2 separate regions of the Homo sapiens genome follow, and region 2 is linked to region 1. Evidence: fine-mapped expression QTL. A gene starts in region 1. The other region holds a variant in brackets. All regions are shown on one strand. Distances are from middle to middle. Region 1 holds the start of MPP1 (MAGUK p55 scaffold protein 1). Region 2 has its middle 56 kb from the start of BRCC3.

What was found. PIP is the estimated chance that this variant, and not a neighbour inherited with it, causes the effect.
Region 2: its variant is the best candidate, but not a certain one, in a credible set for the expression of MPP1 in blood mononuclear cells (TOPMed, PIP 0.50).

What each region holds. Positions count from the first base shown.
Region 1 is chrX:154,802,676-154,807,076 of GRCh38, reverse strand. It overlaps MPP1 (MAGUK p55 scaffold protein 1), which reads left to right and starts at 1,592. Exons shown (of 12, transcript NM_002436.4): 1 at 1,592-1,805. The coding sequence starts at 1,704. RefSeq lists a silencer at 1,468-1,627.
Region 2 is chrX:155,125,171-155,129,571 of GRCh38, reverse strand. No RefSeq gene overlaps it. Among named protein-coding and RNA genes, the nearest start is that of BRCC3, 56 kb to the right of the region's middle. The variant G/A (reference allele first, on the strand shown) is at 2,217.

The DNA.
Region 1 (4,401 bases):
ATATGTATGTTTATTGGCCATATGCGTCTCTCTGTTGGTGAAATGCCTATTCATGTGTTTTGCCCACTTCTTTACTGGATTGTGTTTTTCTTAATAATTTGTAGTCCTTTATATATTCGCAATTGGAATTCCTTGCCACTTATCTGTATTGAAAATATTTTCTCCCAATGCACAGCTGTGTTTTTTGCTCTTTATGGTGTCTTCATAAATTAAAATTCTTAAAGTCAAAGTTACCACTATTCCATTCTATGGTCAATGGTTTGTCTACATTGTTTAGAAATCTGTATCCCAAAGTCTAAAAGTTCCTTGCCTATGTTTCCTGTCAAGAGCTTTAAGGGTATGTTTTTGACATTTAATTCCTTAATCCATCTGGAATAGATTATTATTATTTTCCATATCACATGAATGAGGATTCCAATTTCATCTTTTCCAATATAAATAACCATTTTCCAGCGTCAGTTAATAAAATGTCCCTGTTTACTTACCTAACATGCCACTTCTATCATATACCACATTTCTATACTTGCATGGTTGCGTTTCGGGGTTCTCTATTCTATGCCATTGCTCAATTAATCTATCCATGCCTCAATATCACAGTCTTAATTTCAATCTCTCCCCCCCCACCCCACCCCCCCCTCCCCCCCCGTTCGTTTAGAGTGATCTTGAGGAAGGGAACCGTCATTCACATGAGTTCGGCCTCTTGGTAGAGAAAACTGGGCAATGCAGCTCTAAACTGTTGCCCTTGGATTTTCTCCTCTTGGCTATGAGCTCCTCCTTCCCAGGAAGCTTTGAGGAAGGTCAGAATAAGATTACATGTAGTGATGAACTGCTTCTAATACTGTGAGGCTACTAGCTTGGGGTAGGGGACCAAGAGCCGTACAAGCCCATTAAATGTTTGTTTTGTTCAGAAAGCCTTCCATCGCTGTGACTGGTGTTTGAATGTCTCCAATGCGTTAGGATGCTAAGGAATCCTCCTCTAGGGTTACTAAGGAATGTTTGCTGCCTTTGCTTTCGCTGAGCCGGAAAAATTTTGTGGCATTTACAGCAGGAGATCTGCCCTAAGTAAAAACAGTTTGGTTTTGAAGGCAATAAGATGTTTCATCATCAAACAGCACACAACAATTAAATGACAGGGTGCAGCAGCACAGCAGCCTTAAAGGCATTTTCGCAATGTCCAGATCTCAAAGGGTAATGCTGCGCCCGCATCAATTTATGGGAAGAGTCTAGAGTTCACCTACATCTTTTGAACTCCACTAAGCCGGCCGATTCTGATTTCCCTTGTTGCCTCCCTGCAATCCCCACGAATTTGGCCAGGGCACCCGGGCGGCTCAGGCCCAACGGGGCGTGGGCCGTGTGCTCAACCACCCAGAAGCTGGGGGCCCCCTCCCCTTTCTTATCTTTCTGGCATTCATCTCACGCGGCCACCTACAGCTACGACTTCCTCAGGCCCTTTAAGGGCCGCTTCTCGGAGCGCAGGGAGCCGCGGAGTCCGGGGCGTGGGAGACTTCCATGGGCGGAGCGAGGGCAGGAGTGGGCGGGCCGTAGGCGGAGCTCCGTCCGCGCCCTCCCGGCGCACCGCCTGCGGGGCGGTGACTGGCCCAGCCGCACCGCGTCTCCCGCCTTCTCCGCAGCCCCGCAGGCCCCGGGCCCTGTCATTCCCAGCGCTGCCCTGTCTTGCGTTCCAGTGTTCCAGCTTCTGCGAGATGACCCTCAAGGCGAGCGAGGGCGAGAGTGGGGGCAGCATGCACACGGCGCTCTCCGACCTCTACCTGGAGCATTTGCTGCAGAAGCGTAGTCGGCCAGAGGTGAGCGGGCCCCGCTAGTCCCAAGGGCGCTGGGCCGGGGCTCGGCCATTCATCTCGGGACTTTCCCTGTCCCGGTCCCTGTCCCCGGGGGGCCTGTCCTTGCGGGTCCTGGCCATAGGTCGGAGACCGCGATAGCCGGCGGGGTGAGGACAAGGCCAGCGCGCGGCCGGGTTCGTACCGGGCTGCTGGTGCAGTGGATCCTTGCCCCCAGCAGTCCTTCCAGTTGGAAATCAGGAGAGGCAGCGGCCTGGACAGTGCGCTTATTAAGGGCAAGGAAAACTTCCTCGTGGACGGAAGTCAGAGTAACAGAAAGTCTTTAAGGAACACATCAAGGAGTAGGTCTGCCTGGTTGTTGTTGAAGTGCTTGTGTTTGGGTCAGCAGAAATGATTGTAAAAGCCAGCTTCTGGTTCTAAAGAGCTCACTCACTGTTCCTCTTCATTTAGGCAGGTCCCCTTGTGCTATGGTGCAAAGAGGGTGGCCAGTGTATATTTGCGGGTGGAACAAGGAATCCAGATTCCAGGGATGGATGGCTGGTAAATAGCTATTAACCTCCGTCCTCAAAGATGCCCTAAGGGTAGGTTGTGCTTATCTGTTACTGGCAAATCTCTCCCAAACTCGCTGGTTTACAACACTGAGCATTTTCTTGTCTCTCATATTTCGTTTTGATTGGGCCCAGCAAGGTGGTCGTCACTCAGGGTCTGTCAGGTGGGGACACGGCTCACTTACTCATTTGGAGCCATGAGCCATGAGCCAGAAAATCAACCAGCAGCCTCTCCCTGTGGCTTGGTCTTCCTCACAGCATGCTGGCCAGGTCCCAAGGGGAAAATGTCCAGAGAGAACCAGAGAGCCAGGCAGAAGCTCAGAAGTCACAGCATGAACCTCCTTCCTAGACTGCAAGGTCTTCTAGGGCAGGGCCGTGTCATACTCACTTCTTTAAGTGCCCAATAAGTGGGTCCTCAGAAATGTTTGCTAAATTAATAAATGACTGAAGAGATGGACATTTGGGATTTACAGTAACCCTCCGATTTCACAGATGAAAAAACTGAAGGTCCCTGCAACATAAGGCAAGCAGTAGAGCTGTAGACTCTTTGGGCTAAGTGGCATTAACTCAAGGAAACAAGTAATGGGCATCAGAACTGAGGCTAGATTTTGTGTCTGCTGCACCGCATTGCCTTACCCTTTATATTCCACTCGAGTGAGGCATTCACACCTGCCTGTCATTTCAAATCAGGATTGCAACAGCCTGAGTTTAAATGAGTGCAGAAATAATACAGGCATGAAAGATGCTATTGTTATACAGATGATGAGACAAAATTACAAGTTCTGTTACCTGATTCCCCATAAACTTGGACTTGTGATTTTTTTCTTCCCCACAATCAGTACTCACTTGGCTGAGCCTCAACTATTTTTAAAAAATCTATTTATTTCTGGAAGTCTTATTGAGGTACACTTAGCATACAGTAGAATTCATGAAATTTAATTGTGTAGTTTGATGACATTTGACAGATGTATATAGTCATGTAACGACAACCACAATCATGACAAAGAATAAACATTTTCAAGGTTCCAGGAAGTTCCCCTGTGACCCTTGGCAGTCAGTCACCTTCCTCCACCTGGAACATGGCAACCACTGATCTGTCACTATAGATTTGCCTTTTCTGGAATTTTATATAAATAGAATCCTACAGTATGATGTATTTTGTGTCGGGGTTCTTATGTAAACCTATGTGTTCCCTTATGGGCATGCTTGAAAGACTGTGCCTTTTTGAAAAGAGGCCCTGTCACCACCAGTGTTATGTTGTGGGCACAACCTCTGAGTAAACAGCACGTTTTGTGGGGCTGTGAGTTTATACTGTAATATTGGAGATAGTCTACCAGTTAGCTAATTTGTTTGGTTTTTACTAACGGATTTGAAGAAGATCAAATAAGAAAACTTACTGAATCCCTGAATGAAATAGTATCCAGCTGTGCCAAAGTGAGCATCTGAGGGAGACTCTTCACACGATGAAGTGTGGCTTGACTCCACAACCTGCGGATTCTTATTTCTTTAGGTTCACCTTCCCTTTGGGGCTCTTACCAGTCTTTGCTGCAGCAGCAAGCTCTGCCTTTCACTTGCTGCATGGTTTTGGGCAAGCTGCTGAAGCTCTCTGTGCCTTAGGTTTCTCTCCTTTATGAAACTGGCAAGTTTGGAAGGTTGTGGCAACATTTACATGAGATAATGCTTGACAAGGACCTTGAGCCACACTGGGACATCCAGGGTAATGACCCAGTATCTCCCTAGGAGCTGCCTGCCCAGTAGTAGCAGTCAGAAAGTTTTCCTATAATGGCAAGATTTGAAGCAGGAAAACCTGTGAGGAAGTTGTTGGCTTCAATAGAAATTATAAAATTATTTTGCTGAAAGTTTCATTTAAAGGTGTCACTTTATGGAAAAAGGCTACCGATTCAAAACAAAGTTTCACTTCCAATTATAATCCACATTTAATACTGAAAGAATATTGTCTAAAGGTAATTTTGCAATAGGTTTGAATGTAGCCTATCTCCCCTATTTAAGTATATCTCCTTCCTTGGATAAACTAATTTTTTTTTTCTTTTCAA
Region 2 (4,401 bases), 320 kb before region 1:
TCTGCCTGCTCAAATCTGCTGTTAAGTCTCTCTCATGAATTATTCATTTCAGTTATTATAGTTTTTAGCTCCTGAATTTCTATTTTGTTCCTTTTAAAAATTTTATCTTTGTTATCTCTATTTGGCGAGATATCATTTTCCTGATTTAATTGTTTATTCATGGTTTCCTTTTGTTCTTTGAGCATATTTACAACTGTTGATTTAAATTGTCTAGTAAGTCCAAGACCTGGGCTTTGTCTGGGACAGTTTTTATAAACTTTTTTTTCCTGTCAGTGGGCCGTACTTTGTTTCCTTGCATGCCTCATACTTTTTTGTTTAAAACTGGACATTTTGATGTTATAATGTGGTGGCTCTGGAAATCAGATGTCCCTCTCCCCAGGGTTTGCTGTTGTTGTTTAGTGAATCATGTAGCTGGGACTACAGGCACTAAAATTATAAAACCTATACAACATATTAAAGTTTTAGAATTATGTTAAATGAAGAAATCCACATGCAAAACTATAAGATGCATTAATACTAGAAATGAATAACAGAAATAAGAAAGAGAAGACCAAAAGGACTACCAAAAATGAGTTATTTTGAGGAAATTATAGGTTTCTCTTCACATTTTTCAAGTTTCCTTTATTATATTACTTTTGTGATTTTAAAAATCGGACACTTTAATTTTGTATTAAGAAAGTAATACATACTCATTGTAGAAATTCAAAACACAATTTACAGAAGAGTTCAAAGTGAAAAATAAGACTTCCCCCTGGCCTTAAGCTCAGTAGATTTTAAAAAGTAACTTGTTATAAACTTACCAAAAAGTTGGAGGAATAGTACAAAGAACTCCCATGTTCACTTCATCCAGATTGTTCAATTGGTAACACTTCACATTTCTGCAGCATGCATGCGTGCATGTGTGTACCACCATTATCATATGGCTTTTTCTTAACCATTTGAGACCAAGTTGCAGACATGTTCCATCAGTCCTAAACACTCCAGTGTACAATTCTCAAAAACAAAGACACTCTTGTACATAACTACCACATTGTCAAAAAAAGGCCAAGCCCAAGAGTGATTGATTTGGCTTCTAAAGTAATGACATGTCCTTTTAAGATTCAGTTTATTACCTACATAGACAGCAAGAGGAAGATGGGCCAAAGGTGCCAGCTCCCCATGTCCTTGTTCCCTGCACCAAACAGGACTTCTGAAACAAGGCCTGCATGTTTGCTGCACCAGTTATGGGACACTCCCTTGCTGAGGAGCCCCTTTTAGACTGCAGCTAGCAGTTTTATATTCTGTAGCTATACCCTGAGTGGGGCAGAGCAGATAGCCTCAGACCTCAATAGTACTCAGATGAGAAACTGTCTGTCTCAGTGGCAGCCTCCCAGGAGAGATTAGGAGGTTAGAGATAGCCTTGAAACAGCACCTCACCACCCTCCCATCCTCTTGTGTTCTGGGAGGATCATGATACATCCTGCCAAGACTCAGATAAGTTGCAATTCAAGCCTAGCTTGCATAGATATATGCATGCCAGGTCACAAGGGCACCATGGCAGATCCACTCTCTACAGCTCCATCCCTCACTTTTCAAATAGCTAGCTAAGAATTCTCAGGAGCATAGGCCACCCCATCAAATTACTCTAATTAACTGTGCTTATAGGGGCCTTAACCAAATACATTCTGATTGTTTTGGGCAACATATACAAGAATGAGTCTCTAATTAGGCCCACTTGGAGGATACACACTGCAGCTAGGCTCCCCAACTGGAGCCAAGCCAGTTAAATATTTCATTAACCCAGGTGCAGTAAGGGATGCTGACAGTTGCACATATCCTGCCTTGACTGACCAGCAGGAAGTCCTGGGTAATGTGTTATTGTCCCATTACCATGTACATTAGAGACAATAGACCACTTTGTGTGTGGCAAGCTAGTATAGGTAGCTTCTTTTCATGTAAGAAGTTGTAGTGACCTCAGCAGTGCCATTGTGTTGAGTTGGGATCAGGGTCCAATTCTATTAAGCTCTTGTACAAAAGAGTTTTGTTAGTTTCCAGAAAGTTAATCTCATTCTATCGTTCTGAATGGAGGCTGTTAACTACTTGAGTCAGCAGTTCCTGGGAAGTTTCTGAGAGTCCTTAGATTAAGATTTGTTGGCCAGCCATTGAGTTGAAAGTGGTGGTGGCAGTCTGGGCTAAATTGTCCAGAGGCTCTGCAGACAAGTAGCTGAGATGTTAGC[G/A]GCCCCTCCTCTGCCTTCACAGAGTTTAAAGTGTGCTCTCTCCACCAGTCAGGACTGTTGCCCTCCTTTCACAGCCATGTGATTGATGTTACCAGTCCTTACAGCAGTCACTTCACCCTTTTCCAGTCCTTTCCTTGTCTTACCTACACCTTGCTCCTAAATTGTGTATTAGTCCATTTTTGCATTGCTATAAAGGAATACCTGAGGGTGGGTAATTTATAAAGAGGTTTAAATGGCTCACAGTTCTGCAGGCTGTACAGAAAACATGGCATCAGCATCTGCATCTGATGAAGGCCTCAGGAGGCTTACAATCATGGTGGAAGGCAAAGGGGGAACTGGTGCCTGCTGCCTGGGAAGCACAGATCTGATGAGTGTGTGGATTCCAGTGATGTTCATCCTCAGGCTCCTGGGTCTTGTGCCATCTGCTGCTGTAATGTTTGTCTCACAGAGGCTGAAACATGATCATCCAGTCATCTTGCTGAAAACTTCCTAAGTCTAGTAAGAGATTTAGACATCCAGATACAGGAAACTCAGAGATCCCCAAATATATACAATTCAAACTGTATAAGGAGTTGGGTCTTTTTTTCTTTTTAAACAAAAGCAGACATTACAATAACCAATAGCTGTTGCAGACCAGGAGCTCATTTTATCTCCTTCGCAGGGAGCTTAGGGAGCACAGGTCAGAGCGGAAGAGGCCAGCCTGCAAGGTCAGCTGGAGCTGCAGGAAAGTTTCTTCTTTTGTGTGTCTTTTAAAAAAATAAACAGCTTTATGGAGACATAATTTATACACAATTCACCCATTTAAAGTGAACAATTTAATGACTTTTAGTATAGTCATAGAGCTGTACAACCATCACTGCAGTCAACTTAGAATATTTTCATCACCTCAAAAAGAAACCTCATCCCTCTTAGCCATCAACCCTCTATCCCTGCTCCCTCCTACCCCTCATTCCTTTTTATGGCCAAATAATATTCCATTGAAGAACAGACTGCATTTTGTTTACCCATTCATTGGTTGATAGACATTTGGGTTGTCTAGTTTTTGTTTAAATTTCTGTCTTCAGTTCTGTGGGATATACACCTAGAAATGCCCTTGCTAGGTCTTATGGTAATTCTGTGTTTAAGTTTTGGAGGAGCCATCAGCCAGTTTTCCAAATTGTCTACACCATTTTATATTCCTACCTGTAGTGTACAAGAGTTCCAATTTCTCCACAGCCTCACCAACACTTGTTATTCTCTTACATTTTTATTCTGGTTAGTATAAAGTCATATCTCATGATTTTTATTTCTCTGGTGACTAGTAACGTCAAGCATCTTTTCATGTGCTTCTTCGCAATTTGTAGGTCTTCTTTGGAAAATTTCTATTTAGGTCCTTTGCCCATTTTTGAATTGTGCTGTTTGGTTTTTGTTGTTTTCAGTGTTCTTTATATATTTTGCATACTAGACTCTTATACATAGGATTTGCAAATATTTTCTGCCATTGTCCTGAGTTTTCACTTTTTGATCATGTCTTTGGATGCACAAAATTTTCTAACTTCCATAAATTCCAATTTATCTATTTTTTATTTGTTGCTTGTACTTTGGTGTCATATCTAAGAATCCATTGTAAAAACCAAGATCGTAAAGATTTACTACTGTTTTCTTATAAAGTTTTTATTGTTTAAGCTCTTGAATTTAAGTCTTCAATACGTTTGGAGTTAATATTCATTTATCGTGTGGGATCTCAGTCCAACTTCATTATTTTGCACGTGGATATCCACTTGTCCATTCGCCAGTTGTTGAAGACTATTCTCTCCCATAGTCTTGGCACCCTTGTTGAAAATCAGTTGACTGTAGATGTGTGGGCTTATTTCTGGACTGTCAATTCAATTCCATTTTTAGTGGAGGGTTTGGAAATCAGCATCTTGGTGCTAGCTGTGCTCATAACCACTGGGTGTCACTTCTAGTCCCTCTTGGTGGACGGAGCTGAGACAGATATGTACATATACACATACCTTTCTCAGCTCTGAGATATATATATATAGGGTTTCTGTGTGTGTGTGTATATATGTGTGTGTGTGTGTATATATGTGTGTGTATGTGTGTGTGTGTGTATATATGTGTGTGTGTGTGTGTGTGTGTGTATATATATATATATATATATTTCCTTTGAACAAGAGTTCATATTAATGAACTCTTTTCCAAT